Regions from separate parts of the Homo sapiens genome. Here regions 2 and 3 are each linked to region 1. The links come from fine-mapping of genetic effects on gene expression. A gene starts in region 1. Each other region holds a variant in brackets. All regions are shown on one strand. Distances are from middle to middle.

Region 1 (5,915 bases):
CTAATTAGGAACTTTGCGGAAAACCTTGTGTTTTTGTAGCCATTCCACCATGACAACAAAGCGATTAAGATGTTTTCCATCTACTGAATACCTTTTTAAATTGCGATATTTTATGGTCCGGGTTCTAAAACGTCTTATTTGCAGACTATTTTGTGTTTGATTTAATCTATAACCGAAAACATAATGTATTAAGTGAATACATATTTGCTCAGCTGATAAGCTTTTTTAATATTTATTCGGAGAGCTTTTGCATTGTAAATAAATGGGTCTACACAAAGAGTTCTCTTTGTCTGGCAACTACATACAAAGGCGTTTGGGGCTCCCTTCCCTCTGGGGATCGCCAGCTCTCTCCCCGGGTCTAACAAATAGCTCGGCTCCCAAGCCCCGATCCCGGCCTGCAAAGCGAGCGCCCGGCCGCCAGGGCCCGGAGAGTGCTCTGGCGAGGGGGCTGCGAGCGCAGGGGTCAGGGGAGGGGCTGCCCGGGCTGGACTAGGGACGTGGGGGCCCCCAGCCCCGGCCGGCGCCTCCCGAGCCCCGGAGGGCGCCGGGCGGGACAAAGGGAAAGAAGGAAAGGGAGGGAGGTCAGAAACCTGCAGCTTCAAAGGCGCCGAAGGCCGGAGAGGGGCCGGGGGCTGCGCACGCGGGGGTGCCAGGCTTCCTGGCGGCCTCCAGGGAGTCGTGTGTGCTGTGCTTTTGTTTTGTGGTTGTTTTTTTTTTTTTTTTTCTCTCCAATAAGAAATTTCAAAGTTGAGAAAGCGCGAGCTGCCGGCGATTCTCGGGACGCGGGCTCGGCTACGAAGCAACAATTTTAATCTCCCACCCCCTGCGGGCGGATCGCAGGCCCGATTGTTCCTTTCTCACCAGCCTGCTCGACTTTTTAAGCAAACAGGAGGTGGATTACTGTCGCCTGCCTGCGCCGCCACGGCTCTGACCGGATTGGAGAGAGCTTTTCTTTGTGTTCTCTCCTCCCGGGGAGAGGCCGCGCCGCGCCTCCGCGTCTGCCCGCGCCGGGCTTCGGGGGCCTGGGGAGCCTGAGGCGGCCAGGAAGTGGGGCGAGGAAGGGCGGCCACACGGCCCGAGCTGGGAGTCCCACAGTCCCGCAGCGGCGACGCCGCCACCCGCCGAGTGCCGAGGCCCGGGGCCCACTCCCAGCCCAGCTCCAGGAGAGGCCGCGCCGGAGGACCGCGAGGACGGCGCCGCAGCGCCAGGTCGGGCTGAGGTAAGGGAGGAAATGGAGCGAAAAGTGGCGGCGGGCAGAGGGCCCCGGGCGGGCGGAGAATCGCTGACGAGGGCATTTCGGAAGGAACTGAACCTAGGAGCACAGGGCTCCCTCCCGGGAAGGCAGGGCGTGACCCTGGAGCCGCCGGTCCCTCTTGCCGCGGCCCCAGGCGTGGCTGGCGCGCTCCAGGATCTGGAGCTTCTACAAGTTTGCTTTGTTTCCTGCTTTTGCATCTAAAAACCCGCTCTCTCCTCGCCCGCCTGCCGGAGACCAGGACTCTGGCCCGTCTGCCTCCCTCCGGCGTCGTCTCCGGGAGCGCGGGCGCGGTGGGGCCTGCAGGCCGGGCTGGGACCAGGCGCGCCTTGGGGCGCGAGTGGCTCGGCCGTCGCCGCAGAACCCGCTCCCTGCGAAACAGCCGCACCCGCTCCCTGGGAGAGTCATGAGAACTGGGGTCGCGCCTGACCCCCGCGCCCGAAGAAAACCAGCCCGCGGACCCCGCCACACGGGCCGTGACCCGAGCCCCGCGCGCCGTCCCGAACGCGCGCGGTGAAAACGCCCCGCTGCGCCGGCCTTGCTCGGTCCCCCTCCTCCACCCCCACTTCTCCGGAAAAAAAAAATTCTGAATTGGGAACGAAGACCCGAAAAACTCGCCATGACCATTCCCCTCCCCGGCCCCTAGCTTCGGCCCGGAAGGCCCCTCAGGGCAGCGGCCGTGGGTACCACGACCCGGCCAGTTCCCCTCGCCGCGGACCGACCGGGCAGGGCCAACCCAGGACTGTTCCGGGGAGGGGAGCAGGGTAGGGGAGCGAATGTTGGGGTTCGTTCGTGGGTCACCCAGAACTGGGCGCACGCTGGCGGCGCCCGGACTTCGCCTACTGTCCGCCCGGTGCCACCCGCGCGGCTCGCGCCAGACGCAGCCTGGCGGTCCCTGTCCTGTCTTCGAGTATTTGTTTTTAATGCTGGGTGTCGATCGAGACAACAAGCGCTCAGAGCAAAGCAAGGATGCATTACGGGGGTAATTTTAAACCGATCGATAAGATTTTTCAGAGAAAAAAAAATCGCTCATAGTCCATATTTTTTAAGAAAAAAAAAAGCCTCAACATTTTAACGGATTTTGTTAAAAGGGAAGATATATACTTCTTAACATCACAATCCTGAATTTCTTTTGCTAAAAAAAATGTAAAACCCCAAAGCCAGAATAAAAAATAAAATAATAATAAAAATACAAAAACAAAAAAAAAATGAAAGCAATTTCAGTTACTTACTGGAGGCTGTTTCCTGGATACAACTGAATGCAATACAATTAAATCAGTAAATGTGACTTTGTTTTGTATTCCTATTGGTATTTTCAATGTGCTGACTGTTGCACTGTAAATGCACCGCTTCCACAACAACGACTCTAGCGAGCCCATCCAGAGCGGCTCTCAAACCTGCAGCCTGGCGCGGCGAGCCACGGGCCCTGCATACTAATAAGCTCGTGCCACTCAGCCCGGAACAGCCAGCGCGCTGATTGGCCGCGCAGCCCTCCACGGCCGGGAGCTCGTGCCACTCATTCGGCGTAAACAGGCCTCCCAATAGGCTGGCGCCGGGCCAGGGAACTGCCAATCAGGAAGCAGCGGGGCTACTACCAAGCCCGATGGCGCCTAATTCAAGCCCGGCGACTGCGCAGCTCCTCTGCGCAGATCATTGCTGCTGAATGGGAATGTGGTGGCGCAGGGCGGGAGAGGGAGCTGGAGCGAGCGAGTGCGCGTGTCCCGGCGGAGGGGGAGGCGTAGACACAGACACAGACACACACACACACATATATGTTTAATCCAGCAGGTCTAACGTTTGGCTTCTGCCGCACAGAAGGCCAAGGGAAGAAACACCACCACCCCTTAAAAGTAGCTGCTTTTTCTCCCTGGAATCTGTCTGGCAGGTGGCAGGTAGGCCAGACCTCCAAGCCCAGAGGCCTCCCCAGGTTGCCTGGCCCATCTACCGCTCTGAAGCTGCTGCCTGCCCGGACCCGAGCTCGCGGATGCACGCACGCACGCCCGCTGCTTGGGCAGCAAAAGCTTTGAATAGCCCGTCCGGCTCTCTCCTCCCCATGACCTGGGGATCAGACCCTGGGAAGTGAGTTCTGAGTCTCCAGCCGTCTACATTACTGGCTCTCAATTTTATCTCCCTCTGCCACACTTTGCAACAGAGCAGCTACTAAAATGAAAATCAGGGATTTATTGAGAAGACAAGGATTGCCCTTTCTTCATCTACACCTAGATTTAGAAAATATTTTCAGTTTGGTAATGGGGGAAGCGGGTATGGTGTGGTAAACCATGTATAGTATTTCTCAATGCTGCTCCCTGTCTGCCTATCTGCTAAATCCTCACTCCAACTAAAGCAAGCCACTGAACAATTTTTATCGTAATCAGATGCAAACCACTTCTAAAATATTCCGCAAACAAATATTTCTGTTAGAATTTGGTTTCCCACCCAAATGCTATTTATTCTCAGGGAGTCGAGGTGATGTCTTAGTGGCGATGGATACATTTATTTTTGCTCCTCTTTCTCCATGTGAATCTCTGCCTCCCCCTCTGGGGGAAAAAAGGATATTTAAACTAGGAGCCAACTGACAGATTCACACGCATTCGAAATTCTCCACCGTCTCATTCCGGCAGGGACACGAAAGAGTTAAACTCAAAGCCTGTTGTCTCTCTGTTTCCCCGCCCCCACTCCCGCTCCCGCGGGACCGCTGGGATTGGTTGGCACTCCGCCAGTGGACTGTCCATCACCGAGTGTAAACAAGGCGCTGATTGGCTGTTGTCCAGTCCGCACTGGGCCTCCTGAAAAAAGCAATTACTGGCTCCGCGGTTTCAAGGCGGCCCAAGGCCGCTTGATGAAAGGAGATAAGCTGGGGACCGTTTCCAGGATCCCCGCGGGCCGACCGGGGCAGCCCGGGAGCCGAGGTGCGGCGGAGAGCCCGCGGATCAAAGGAATCTGGAGAGAAAGGGGAAGCGGGCGGCCGGCCCCGGCCGGCCTTCCCCCCCGCAGGCCACGCCGACCTGGGGTGGGGGGCTGCGGGCCGCGGGCGGGGACTCCGGGATTTCCCGCCTGCCTGAGTCGGGGCCTACGCCGGCGCCCGCTTCGGGCGGCTCGGCCCGGAGGGGAGCTCCGGAGAGCCCGGGGCTCGCAGGTAAGCACCGGCGCTCCGCGGGCCGGGCCGGGGACGCAGGACAAGGCGCGGGGCCCACCCCGGCTGGCTCGGGAGTGGCGGTCGCGCGGGCCCGGCTCCCGTCTCCGGCGTCTCCCGGCTCCGGCGGCCGGGACCCCCCGCGGCCGAGCCCCTGGCCAGGCCCCAGGCCGGCGCCTTCGGAAGCGACGTCTGGCGGGCCGCGGGGCACGAGGGGGAGAGCCGGGAAGCGTAAATCCCCGAAGCGCGCGGAGATCCGATTAGCGCGCGGCTATTCATTAGGCTGGGGGCGATTGAATTAGGTCCCTGGGCGCGGTCGCCGGCTGGGGGTGTGTGGCGCCGACCCCCGGGCTCTTGCCGTGGCCTCGGGAGGCTGGAGCAGCGAGCAGCGGCCCCAGCGAGTGTGTCGGGGAAGCGGGTGCCTCCGGGTCCCGGCCCCGCGGGTGCAGGCGGAGGCTGCCCGCTTCCCGCGTACACCGAGGACGGCCGGCCCGGCTCCGGAGAAATGGCGCTTGAGAAAGGAGGGGAGGGGAAGGTTCCCGGACCCTGGGCAGGGACCCGTCGCCGGGGACCCGCGGAGCCCTCCGGGGATGGAGGAGGCGCGAGCTGGAAGCGGCGCGCGAGCCCGAGCGCGGGGCTAACACCGTGGGGCCCAGTCTCTCCTGGCTCGGGTAAGTGGACGCGCCCCGAGGCCCCGGGTCCACGCAGGGCGCCCCTCGCAGACGGCGCATTTCCTACTCTCCTAAGGAACCGAGTTCCCATCACTGCCTCCGATGAGCCTGTTTCCGGATCAGGAACCTTTTTCAAGTTAATTTTTAAAGCCTCATTTGAATTTTTTAATATAGGAAAATACGTATACGAGAAAAATCTTGGATGCAACAAAAAGAACACCGTGGCCACCCGTGGTGTCCCAGAAGTTGCTCTGAGCTCCTCGCATCAGGGCAGGTGCTCCACCTCTAACCGCCCTGTGGGGGAACGGGAGGCCCCAAGCCCCTGGGAGTCCTGGTCTCCTCTAGAGTGTGTTGGAAGGACAGCCGCTGGAAAGGCCCCTCAGAGCCCCTAAACCAGCCTCCCCTCCCCCGTGGGCAGATTGTTCGAGGGTCCTGGAGCCTGAATGATGGGCCCTCGGCTTGCCCACCCCCATCCCCAGTCATCAATCACCATTTGAGAAATGCCCACTGCCAGGGACATGGGAGGGCAGAGGGTAGCTCGCGGGTGCGTGGCCCCTATCTCCTCAAGCTGGTTTAGACCCTTCTGGCTCAGCCTCACCAGATTCCTAGGATGAGCACTGGCTTCAAATCCCCCAAGTGCTGGTCCCTTCGTGTCCCCGAAAGAGGCTGCTCGCGTGGGCAAAGGCCCCGAGGCGTCGAGTGCGCCTTCCAGGGCAGTGCGGAAGCTCCCTGCCCTCCTCCTTCCTCCCCACTTCTGCCTCCTCCTCCCCCAGTGTTCACTTGAAGCAAATTCTAGTGGGCTTTTTTTTTTTCAATACTGTTTCAAAACAGTTGTTACAGCAAATAACTGCAGACGGGT
Region 2 (5,915 bases), 49 kb before region 1:
GCTGGGCCCCCGGGGCGGTGGTTTGCATAGTTTCAGGGTCCTCGAGGTTAGAAGAGTGCACGTCTGAGGGTAGGGAGAAGCCCAGGCCAGCCATGGGGCGCAGGTATCCGGGAGGCAGGTCTGCAAAGGAGGGGACAGGTCAGCAGGGAGCTGGGAGTGGTGGTGAGGGGGTGTCCTGCGATAGGACGGAGGACAGTGGCCTCGAACCCTCAGACCCAAGCCCGTGCGGAAGGGCCCTGGGCTAGCTGCAGGTCTGCAAGACTGGTGGCGGGGAAAGGGTTACGTTAATTAAGGGGGCAACCTGGCTGGGTGCAGTAGCTCACACCTGTAATCCCAAAACTTTGGGAGGCTGAGGTGGATGGATCATTTGAGGCCAGGAATTCGAGACCAGCGTGGGCAACAGAGTGAGCACGTGCCACTACAAAAAAATTAAAGAACAATGAGCTGGGCGTGGTGGTGCATGCCTGTGGTCCAAGCTACACAGGAGGCTGAGGTGGGAGGATGGCTTGAGCCCAGGAGGCCGAGGCTGCAGTGAACCATGTTCGCGTCACTGCACTCCAGACTGGGCGACATAGGGAGATACCCTGTCTCAAAAAAAAAAAAAAAAAAAAAAAAAAAAAAAAAAAAAAGGTGTGAGCAGCCTGAGGCCAGGCCCTCATTCCCCTAAAGAGTGGCCTTGAAGCTCCCCCCAACAACCCTGGCTGCCGGGGCTGGGGGTGGCCTCAGGAGCCATCTCTGGCATGGTATGCTGTGGGTAACCAGAAAAGGGGGAATTTGTAAAACATGATGCTTTAATCAGGGTTTTCCCTGAACCAGAACAAGCCGGCAGCATGTCAGAGGCATCATGTCCCATTAACTGCAAAAAAAAGAAAAAAAAAACGAAGGGAAAAAAACGGAAAAACCCTCTGCTAGCTCCATCTCCTGACTGTGAAACTAGGACGGGTTTTATGTTCGCCACACGGTTTCCAGTGTGACCTCTCAGTCCCACTCAGAGAGAATCAAATAGGCTGGTGGGGAGTGGATGGGCGGGTGGCAGGGGCCGAGGCCAGGCCCGAGACCCCCCCACCCAGGCACCCCGCCTCGCTGCCCCTCCCTCTCCCAGCTTTGCTGAGACCCTGAATGGCAGCCTGGTCAAGTCCCATGCCCAGTGCCCCCAGGGTGCCAGTACCACCACCAGCAGGCCCCGCCTTCATTGCTGGAGGGCCCCTACGACAGCCAGCGGGACCCCGTCTTCCTCCCGCCTTCGTCAGCCCACGGCCAGGAAGGGGGCGGCTGGGGCACTGTGTGCTTCTCCCAAGGTCATTGGGAGGACTGGGAAGAGGGAAGAGAGAGGAAGGGAACAGCCATGCTGCCCTGGGTCTGGGCAGGTGTGGCGCCTCCCTGCAGGCAGCCCGGATTCAGCGCAGCCCTGCCGGGCAGGGGTGGGAGGGCTTGGAGCGGAGCACAGTGGGCCGGGCCAGGCGGCTACTCTCACCTGGTTCGGATGTGATGATGTCGGCCGTGGACTGCTGACCCTCCCCATTCTTTTCCTCGGCGCTGCGCACCCGGGAGCCAGGCCCGGGGCTGCTGGCAGGGCAGACATTTAAAGTGCACGGGGCGCTGGGCCGAGGTGGTGGGGTGGGGGAGCTGGCGGGGGGCTTTGGGTCGGGCGGATGGCAGCAAGGTGGCAGCTTGGTGGGGCCTGCAGCGGGTGAGGGGGCGCCCGGGGCCGTGGGGGTTAAGGCAACTGGCTTGTGGGTGGACTTTGGGGCCTTCTCCTGGGCGGGCTCCTCCAGATCCAGGTGCTGGTCTTCGGGCTTCCGCTGTCAGGGATGGGGGCAAGCTCGGTCAGGCTCAGGATCCCCTGACCCCAGTGGGCCCCCTGCTTGGGTTCATCCTGCCAGAGGCCAGGCATGCAGGGGTCTCCTGGAGCCAGGTCCGGCCAGGCAGGGTTGGGGAGAAGTGCCCGGCCCAGGTGAGCGTGGCTAGGGGCGGTACCTGGAACTGGGCGGCCCTCTGCTGCTGCAAAGCATAGAGCTCCTGCTGCCGGAGGAGCTGCGGCCTCGAGTACACAGGGAGCTGGCCCGGGTGCTGCATGTGAGAGGCGGGGCCCCGGCCCCCGTACATGGGGGGCCACAGTGACGCCTGGTCCATGACATCCGCTGTGGGCAGGGCCCAGGAGGGGTCAGCCTGGCTGGGGAGGGGACAGCTCCGGGGCTGCTTCCCCGCCACCCTTTCCTCAGCCCACCAAGCCCACCGCTCCCTCCTGAGCCCTGGCCAGCACACCCCCGGCTGCCCCTCCTTCCAACAGCACCCCCCAAGTACAGCAGCCTGGACCAGGGGCCCTTACCAAGTGCGTGGGGGGCGCTGTGGGGTGTGGGCTCTGAGGGCAGGATGACCAGCTGTGTGGGGGCGTCCTGTGGGAGGGGGAAGACAGAGGGCACAGGGCCAGCCACGGAGGCGGGGAAGCCGGGGGGCAGGTTCTGGTGCAGGGCAGGGTGCCCCAGGCCTGGGAGGCAGAGGGCACAGTGGTCAGGCCTCGCACTCTCGGGGACCAGGAGGGAACCCTCATCAGCCCCAGGCCAGCCCCCGCCCTTGGATCACTGACCGTAGGAGTGCCCCCCCATCCACAGGGAGGGGCTGCGGGTGCGGGGCAGCCAGGGGGGATGGGGGTGGGTGTGGGGGGCTGGGTCCCCGCCCAGCTGGCCGCTCTGCATCATGAGGTGGGGGGCCAGGTCCCCAGGGCAGCTGCTCGGTGGGTGGATCCGGGCGAACTCTACGCGGTCTTTGCTGTCCCTGTAAGACCTGGGGCTCAGCCCTGCCGCCGGCGCCAAGGCCCAGCTCCCCATCCCACCCCCGGCCCTTTGTTGTCTCTGTAAGACCTGGGGCTCAGCCCCACCAACGGTGCCAATGCCTGACTCCCTGTCCCACCCCCTGCCATCAACCTGGGAGGGAGAAC[G/A]GGACCTGGAGGCTCAGGGAAAACCCCAGGCTCCAGCCTCAGTGCTCTGCAGGGCTGACTGGGGGCCATCTCCTGGCCCCTGAAAGTGGGTAACCTGACCGCTGCAAGGGGTTAACTGAGACCCCCAACCCCGGGTGAGACTCCAGAAAGGCTCTAGGGGTGGGGAGAACCCCACCCACGGCCGGCCATAGAATCTGCTGCCCCAGCCATGACCACCCCTCTTTCTCCACGTGGCTCTGAGTGGGGAGCCCCAAGCCCAGGCCTAGCCCCACTCTCCAGGGCCACAGGCCCAGCTCTCACTGCAGCAGCAGCTCGCGGCTGGCAAGCCCCAGGCGGTCATCACATAGCCTCGTCCTCTCCTCCTCAGCCTCCAGGTCCAGCGCGTGTGTGGAACGGGGCCCACCGCCACCTGCACAGGGTCGAGACAGCAGACGGGAGAGGGTTGGGGCGGCCAGGGAGCCACCAGCTAAGGCAAGCAGTGACCCCGCTTCGAGCTGGGGGGCCTGATGCACTGAGGAGGATCCCCTGGTCCTGGGGCCTCGGAGGGTCTGCCAAGGGCAGGTGTGGGAGCTGGGGAGCCGGGGCGCAGGGCAGGGCCAGCTGGGCCCCCTAGACTGTCCCGGCCTGCCTCCCTCTCTGTGCAGGGCCTGTACCTTTGAAGGCGGGGGCGGCCCGGCCCTGCCGCGCAGTGTTGGTGCCGTAGGCTGCCTCAGACCGGCTCACTGTGTCCTTCTGCCGGGCCAAGGCCACTGCAATGCCCACAGGGGGCTGCCGCACCTCCCCGTCGCCGTGCGTGGTGTCGTGCTCCCTGCTGCGGGCACAGTCCGGCCTCTCCGACTGGCCTGGGCCCTTAGAGGACAGGAACTTTGCTTCCTGCTGGATGCAGCTGGCCTTGAGGCCACCCAGGCCCACCAAGGGTGCTTTCTGGCCCACCACCAGGGCCTGGCTGCTGTATTTGAGCAGGTTCTTCATGGCTGAGACCTCGTCCGGCGGCGCAGGCAGTTCCTGGGGCAGAAGAGCCGCCTGCTGCAGGCCACTGCCAAAGGGGTCCAGGTAGGCGCCAGCCTTGCGCTCCTCGCTGATGGCCATGGCGGTGCCCTGGCCTGCCTGGACACCCCATGGGGGCAGGTGGGGCCCACTGTAGCCCAGGGATGCCAGCTCCAGGGACTTGCGCTTGGCCTCAGCCCCAATGCCCCCCTGCTCCACCTCGGCGGCCATCAAGTGCTGCTGGTGCCTGATGCGGGCCACCTTCTGTGCCCCTGGGGGGCCGGCCGGGGCTTCCTTGCCAACAGTCTTATCTAAAGTGCAGCAGGCCTGGGGGGCCTTCCCGCCCAGCGGGTCCTGGTGACCAGGCCGGGCACAGTCCTGTGAAGAGGTGGGCAACTCGAAGTAGCCGCTTTTGTCCAGACCGCTTTTAGGGAGTCCGGGGAAGGAGGCCTCGGGGCCTGCGCTGCTGAGATAGTCGAGGCCCTTTAGCCGGGGGTTGAGGGCCGCCTCAAAGCCCCCAGGCCGCCGCTCGCCCTTGCCCTCGGCCTTCAGGTGGGCATAGGAGACTCCATAGGGTGCAGCGTGGTCGGGGGCCATGGTTCCCTCCAGGTGCCGGTCCTTGCCCTCCCCTGCCACGGCACAGGCCTCGGCGGCCTGGAAGGGGCGGCCCTTGTCGGCCAGGTGTCCCACAGAAGGCACGAAGGTGGGCCCGCTGGCCTTTAGGTCCCGGGGGGCTTTGTCCTGCAGCGGGCAGAGCCCGTCAGGGCCCCCGTGCAGCTGCAGGCAGGGGAAGGAGCCGGCGGCTGTGCTGAGGGGCGGGGGTGGCCCGGCGTAGGATGCGGTGTGGTGTAGCATCTGCCGCCGCTCCAGGCACTCGCTGAAGGCCGGCCCGGGCTCCGGGGGGCCTGCTGCCTCCTTTGCACAGCGCCCGGAGGTCACCACCCCCGTGCCAGGCCGCCCCAGCATGCCCCCTGCACAGCTGGCTAGCGCAGCCCTGCCCATCTCGCCGTTGAGCACCTTGGTGTTGAGGAGGCAGGAGGTGAGGTGCTTGGGGCGGCCCTCGCAGGCCCCTCGGGGTGCGGGGCCGCCCTCCCTGCAGTGCCCGTCGGCTGGCACGGGCAGCACCAGCTTGTGCCGCTCCTTGCCACCGTCCTCCTCTGCCGCTGGCCGCTCCTTGCCCTCAGCGGCCTTGCCCGCCTTCTCTCTGCCCAGCTCTTTGCCCACGAGGAAGCGGTCGAAGTCCTTGGGGCCCTTCTGCAGGGAGCCTGCCTCACCCCGGTCTCGATCCCGGCTGCAGGAGCCCATGGGGTGGGCAGGGGCGGCCCGGGCCACGCTGGGGAAGTTGTGGTTGGCCGGCAGCAGCGTGGGCTGGGGCGGCAGGTTGCGCAGGTAGAAGTTATCTGTGTGGGAAAGAGCCAAGGTCAATGGGAGGCCTTAGGGGTGAGGCTGGAGAAAGACTCCCTGAGACAGGTGCTCCAGGTGCCTCCCGGACACCAGCTGGCACTGACTCCAGGTTACAGCCTAGGGAAGGTTTTTGCTCTTTTTTTTTTTTTTTTTTTTTTGAGACGGAGTCTCGCTCTGCCCTCTGTCGCCCAGGCTGCAGTGCTGTGGCGTGACCTCGGCTCACTGCAAGCTCCACCTCCCGGGTTCACGCCATTCTCCTGTCTCAGCCTCCCGAGTAGCTGGGACTACAGGAGCCCGCCACCAGGCCCAGCTAACTTTTTGTATTTTTAGTAGAGACGGGGTTTCACCATGTTAGCCAGGATGGTCTCGATCTCCTGACCTCGTGATCCACCCGCCTTGGCCTCCCAAAGTACTGGGATTACAGGCGTGAGCCACAGCGCCGGGCTGGTTTTTGCTTTTGTTTTTATAAAATTGTAGTGAAATATGGGTAACATAAAATTTCCCATTTTTGGTGCACAGTTCAGGGGCACTGGGCACACTCCCCCTGCCGTGCAGCCGTCACGAGCATCCATGGCCAGAACCTCTC
Region 3 (5,915 bases), 82 kb after region 1:
GCCCCATTCTGCCTTCTGAGACATCTCACCAACGCAGCAAGAGGACTGCACAGGACAGGACTCAGGGGGTGGGGCTGCCCCGGGCAGAGTGTGAAGACCAGTCCTGCGGGCCTGCCCTTCAGGGTCCCTAGGCCGCCGGCCCTGCCAGGGGCTGTAGGAACAGCAGTGAGGGAGGACGGAGAAGGCAGCCGAGGCAGAGGGACCCCCTCCGGCCGGCTCCTGCAGGGCTATGGCTCCGCGTTGCCACTTGCCTGTCCTCCAGCCCCTGTAGCCTCCATCCCTCGCACAGCGCCCCAGACTGGCAGAGCCCATGCAGCTGCCAGACAGTCCCCGCTTCCCCTCGCAGCCAAGCACACCCTTAGCCCCAGTGTGAGGGTCTGGGACAGCAGACTGACGGGGGCAGGTGGGAAAAGACCACGTGCATGAGGTGTGCATGTGAGTACGTGTGTGTACATGTGTACACACACGTAAGAGACAAGGATATACCCTCAACTCTTACTGTCCCCCGCACCAGACCCTCAGGGGAGGCTCCGGACCCCAGCCTGTGCTCCCAGGTGGATGGTGAGGCTGCTTAGAACAGTCCTCACTCCGGGCAACGCCTGGGGAGGATCCTGGGGCAGGAGAGTCCCTGCCACGTGTGGAGCCCAGAGGAAGGTCTGGGAGGTCCCAGGAGAGGGAGTGATGCCTGGGGCAGGGCAGGGCAGGGTGAGGGGAGGCTGAGGCCGGGAAGCCGAGAAGACCTGGGCAGCTCTGGGGCCCCAGAGGCCTCAGCCTCGGGGAGCTGCCAGGTGCTGGGGAGAGCGTGGGTGCAACCCAACCCTGCCCTGCGCAACGCTCCTCAACCTGTGCCCTGTCACCACCCCAGGCCCTGGGTCCTCCCTACTCTCCCAACCCTCAGGGACCCTCTGTCGGCCCCCAGCCCTAAGGATGGCGCGTGGCTGCCCTCCCTGGCTGCCCGCCACCCCTGGGCTGGAGCTCCAGCCTCTTTCCCACTCCCTCTGGCCCTGTCAGTCATCTGCCTGCTCCTGCTGGCCAGTGGCCTCTTGCCCATGTGCTGAAAGAGCCATTGTTCAGGAGGGGATGGAGGGGAAGGGTCGGCTGGTCAGGCCTGGTTACTGGTCAGACTCCGGCGTGTGCCAGTGGATGGACTCGGCTGTCCCCTGGGGCCAGCTGGGCAGCCCACGGGACCTGGAGGCAGTGTTGGGTGGCTGGGGAGGCCTGAGTGAGCTCAGAGGCCACCTCCCCTCCTCTCAGCACCTTCCTTCCCAGCTGAGCCTGAGGGAGGATGAAGAAGATGCATTTGGCCCCGGTCGGCTGCTGCAGCCTCTTGTCCAGCAGAGACCCTGGGGGGCGGGGGACACACAGGGGCTCCCTGTGCGGCCAAAGAGGCATTGGAGAAGGGACTTCCCTGAGGCAGCCTGATGCCTCTGACTGGCGGCAGCTGGGAGCCCTCCGCTTGAGGACCCGCCGTCACAGCATGGCCCCTGCAGGCCGGGGCTCTAACGTGGTACTACTGTAGGGCTGGCAGGGCCTGGGCGTGGGGACCAGGCAGAGCTGGGGTCCCAGGCCCTGCATGGTGTCCACTAACAGGACACCAGGTAGTCTCCCGAGCCTGCCGACCTCCCTGGCCTCAGCCATAAGATGGGCTGAGAGAGAGTGGAGGCTCTGCGGCGGGATTGGGTGAGGAACATTTGAGCTGGAGGCCAGCCTGGCTCTGTGCGGCCCCGGGAGGCCAGAGGTGCCCCTCCGTCATGTGGAGGAGCTGACTGCAGAGGCCTCCCATCCTGTTCCTCAGGCAGGGGCCCCGTCTGGCACTCCCAGGCCACCCCGGTGCTGGGGGAGTTGCAGGTGGTGGGGTCACCTTGGGGGGGGTACAGCCTGTCCACATCAGCTCTGCTTCCCTCTCTCCCTGCCCCCACAGGCTAGCTTGGCTGAGCCCGATGCTTCTCAAGGTGAGGAGGGCGTCCTTGAAGCCTCCGGCCACCCCACACCAAGGTCTGTGCACCAAGGTCAGGGCTGCGCAGGAAGAGGGGAGGGGTGGCGGGGAGGTTATGGTCTGGAGGGAGGAGGGAGGGCAGGGGAGGGAAATAAAAAGAGATTACATTTTTTAAAAGGTACTCTAGCTGTCTGCTGACACCGCCCCTGGTCTCCATCCGTTTTATAGCCTGATGGGCTTGAGCAGCTGGGCCTCGTCTGTCAGGGGCATGCAAAGGGTGGGGGCTGGGAGCAGAGCCCCCACAGGAGGCCTGGATGGGGGCCACCTCTCCCCGGGCCTGGGTTCCCTCTGGGGTTGCCCAGGCCGGGCAGGGGCGCTCTGTGCAGGTGGGATGGGTGGAGGGAAGCTGGCCCGGGGCGGGCGGCCACTATCTGGGCCCATCTATTCCCCTGACAGGTCAATTTTCTCTCATGTTTTACAGGAGCTTTCAGGGCAGGAAATGTGATCGGGCAGCTGATTTATCTCCTTACCTGGTCTTTGTTCACAGCCTGGCTCCGGCCCCCCACCCTGCTGCAGGGCCCGAGGACGTCTCCCCAGGGGTCCCCACCTCGGTCTCCTTGGGGGGACTGTGCTGAGCCCAGCTGCCTCTGTGAGATGAAGATAAGAAGGCGAAGACATGAAGGGCCTGCCTGGGGGCAGTCTGGCTTTCTTGCAGGGGGGCTGCACCTGGTTCCCTCCTCCCTCTCGCTGGCAGCCTGCGGGGTGGTGAGGATGAAGGGGCTGTGGGGCCGGGGTGCAGGGATTAGAGGGAGGTGACTGCCATCTCTTCCTCCTCATCGTGTTTTTCACCTCTTAAGTCAACTTTAGATTCTCGGACTCAGAGTTCTCTCCTGACGGTGGCAGGGTCCTCAGATCACCGGTGCAGACAGGGCCAGACAGGGCCAATGTGGGGACCCACTCAGCCTGTGGCCTCTGCAGGAGGGAGGTCGGAGGCCTCAGCAGCCACCCCGGCCACCTCCTGAAACAGTGAATGTCCTTCATTTTCAGCTGGCAAGCTCTGATCTTACAACGAGGTATGGAACTGTTCAGAAAACTTTCAGCAGACGTTCGAGGGAAAACAGCTCAGCTTCCCATGCCCCCCACCTCTGCCAGGAGCGACCCCATATCCCCCAAACAGAATTCTGGTAGCCCGGGACCACAGGG[T/C]CTTCCTGTGCCTCCCCTGCCAGCTCTGCATGACTTTGTCACGTACTTGAGTGCTGGCTGAGATGATGCTACCGCTACCAAACAGGTGGGAGGCCAGCCCCAGCCCCAGCCCCAGCCCCACCGGGGCCGGAGCTCCCGGTGAAGAAGCGTCTGCCTGGTTCGCAGGTGTCCAGGACACACCAGTCGCCTGACTCCCGGTCAGGCAAACGCACACATCAAGTTCTTGCAAGCCAGGGCTCTGCTGGCATCTTCAAGAGGAGGGAGGGTCCTGGCCCTGACCACAGGGCTCCCTTAACAGGAGGAGTTACAAACTCGGCTTCCTGGGGGGCATCGTGGGGTGTGCTGCCTGCCAGGAGACCCCACTCCTGGTCACGGGGTTCCGTCCCACACAGTGGCAGGAGCCATGCATGATTCTTGGCTGAAGAAGAACCCGCACAGCTATGTGGTCTGCCGCCCAGCAGGGAAGCCCCCACATCAGCCCTAAGGGAACTTCCCAAAGCTCAGCAGGTGCCTCTTCCTGCCATCCGCTAGGTCTTCTCTTGGCCCCTCTCCCAAGCCTTGACCCATAGCTGACACTTCTAGAAAAGTCTTTACCGAGAAACGGACCGGCTGCATGGGTGGTGAGGAGGGCAGTTGCCCAGGGCCTGGCATCAGAGGGGCCTGTGGCTAAGGCTGTCCTGAAATTCTTAATCATTTTACCTCTGAACTTGCGGGTTTTTGTTGTTGTTTTTTGAGGCAGAGTCTTGCTCTGTCACCCAGGCTGGAGTGCAGTGGTGCGATCTTGGCTTACTGCAACTTCCGACTCCCAGGTTCAAGCGATTCTCCTGCCTCAGCCTCCCGAGTAGCTGGGACTACAGAAGTGCACCACCACACCCGGTTAATTTTTGTATTTTTAGTAGAGACGGGGTTTCACCATGTTGGCCAGGCTGATCTCAAACTCCTGATACACCCGCCTCGGCCTCTCAAAGCACTGGGATTACAGGTGTGAGCCACCGCGCCCGGCCCTTTTCCTGCCTCCTAAACAAGTGGCCAGGAATTCTCCTCCTGCACCGGGTCCCCAGATTGTGTGGCAAGCCCTGCAGATGGCACAGGGGACTGGTTCTTCCTCGTGGAAAGCCAGGCCCGGACACCTCTCGGGCATCGCCTGTTGGGGTGACCCTCCCACACCCAGCCTGGAACCCTAGCCAGCTCAGCCTCCGTCCGCTGAGAAATCAAGGTGACCTTGTGGCTCAGCCCTCAGGGGGCACTCACCACACAAGAGTTCCCTTTCAAGACCCCCTGTTCGGGGCTGGGGCCCCCAGGAACGGTTGGGGCACCTTCCTGGGGCCCTGTTTTTCCCCAGGAGCGGGGCCTGGGAGCTGAGGGCGTCTCATCTCCCCACAGGCATCTGCTGCTGCTCCTGGCTGCCACTCACCCCTGTGAGATGCTGAGGGCAGGATACCTGTCTGTGCGGGGCGTGGGAAAAAGGGAGAAAGCCTGGCAGAGGGTTGGGGGCTAAGAAGCAAAGGGCGTGGAAGGGCCACCGTGCACTTTTGAAGTCTCTACTTGCCAGTGGCCACCCCACCTCTCCCTGCCCTCATCCAAGGACGGACAGGCCTGGCAGGTGGACCGGAGCTGTGGGGCAGAAGCATCCCAGGCCTGGCCTCAGAGGAGGGAGGCCATGGTGAAAGTGGAGGCTGTCTGCATCCACCTCCCCAGCCTTTGTCACCGGGACCTCAGCCTGACCCCAGGCCCACCCCAGGCTGCTCACCGAGGTGGGTACCCTGCCCACCGCCAGCTCAGATGCGGTGTGTGGACTCCCTTCTCTCTGGGGGTGAGCGGGAGTTCCCTCCCCTCCACATCAGGAGCTGGGGGAGAGCTGGAGGGCCCTGGGATCCCCTTGACCCTGGTCATCAGCCCCAGCCCTGACAGGCCCTGCGTGTGCCATGTGTGGCCTGGGTTTGGAGCTCAGCACCCTGCGGGAATTCTATTAAATCTCCGATTTTATCTGAAAACTTCACCCACATGTTGCATTGCTCTGTGAGGCGTCTGTGTGTGTCCAGGCAGCAGTAACAACGCTACTAATGCTGGCGGCCATCACAGGAAGCCAGTCCGAACGTCCCCCAAGGGCCTGTTTCACCCTCATGACACCAGGCGTGGCAGAGACGAGGAGCAGAGGCCTGGACCTCTCAGGGTCTCAGCAGGGGGAGGCCGGCCTGTCACGAGTGTTTGATGACCATGGAGAGGAGGTGGTGGAGGTAAGCGTGGCTGCTTCCAGGGGAAGGGCGGGCAGTGCTGGGGGAGGGGTTCTGTATTGATTAAGCACGTACTGTGTGCTAGGTCCTCTGTGGGCTTCATTTAATTTATTGCCACAGCCACGGGAGGGAGGGGTGGTTAGCGCTATATTTCAGATGAGGAAACGAGGCTCCGGTGAAGACACTTGTCTAGTCCTCTGGCTGTGGAAGGTGGGAAAGGGATGTCAACCTGGGCTCGGGAGAGATAAGGAAGCTGAGGCCTAGAGCCTTGTCAGGCCTGGAGCTGCTGTCCTCCCGCTGGGGCAGCACCGCCTGCCTTCATTTAGAGCAGCAGATCCTACAGCACCCGGGTCCTCACCTATCAAAGGCAGACACCATTCCTGACCACGTGATGGCCTGGACGAGACCAGTGTCTGGGTGTCTGGGTGTCTGGGTGTCTGGATGGGAACTGGGAGGGCCCGGCCAGGCCCGGCACATGGTGACTCTGCCTGCCCTTTGCAGCTGAGAGCTGGCCTCTCCTAGACCTCAATGTCCACTGACAC

What was found. PIP is the estimated chance that this variant, and not a neighbour inherited with it, causes the effect. A credible set is the group of variants that fine-mapping cannot tell apart.
Region 2: its variant is the best candidate, but not a certain one, in a credible set for the expression of BAHCC1 in whole blood (TOPMed, PIP 0.81).
Region 3: its variant is the best candidate, but not a certain one, in a credible set for the expression of BAHCC1 in whole blood (INTERVAL, PIP 0.84).

The regions. Positions count from the first base shown.
Region 1 is chr17:81,392,205-81,398,119 of GRCh38, reverse strand. BAHCC1 (BAH domain and coiled-coil containing 1) reads right to left here and starts at 2,663. Exons shown (of 28, transcript NM_001377448.1): 1 at 2,485-2,663. RefSeq lists enhancers at 708-1,316, 1,317-1,925, 4,009-4,566 and a silencer at 3,951-4,220.
Region 2 is chr17:81,441,241-81,447,155 of GRCh38, reverse strand. It overlaps BAHCC1 (BAH domain and coiled-coil containing 1), which reads right to left. Exons shown (of 28, transcript NM_001377448.1): 5 at 3,592-5,325; 6 at 3,239-3,347; 7 at 2,588-2,775; 8 at 2,330-2,488; 9 at 1,978-2,141; 10 at 1,475-1,802; 11 at 1-120. Among named protein-coding and RNA genes, the nearest start is that of MIR3186, 7.0 kb to the left of the region's middle. The variant G/A (reference allele first, on the strand shown) is at 2,939.
Region 3 is chr17:81,310,488-81,316,402 of GRCh38, reverse strand. TMEM105 (TMEM105 long non-coding RNA) reads left to right here. Exons shown (of 3, transcript NR_165247.1): 2 at 1,922-1,995; 3 at 2,418-5,138. Among named protein-coding and RNA genes, the nearest start is that of LINC00482, 4.2 kb to the right of the region's middle. The variant T/C (reference allele first, on the strand shown) is at 3,140.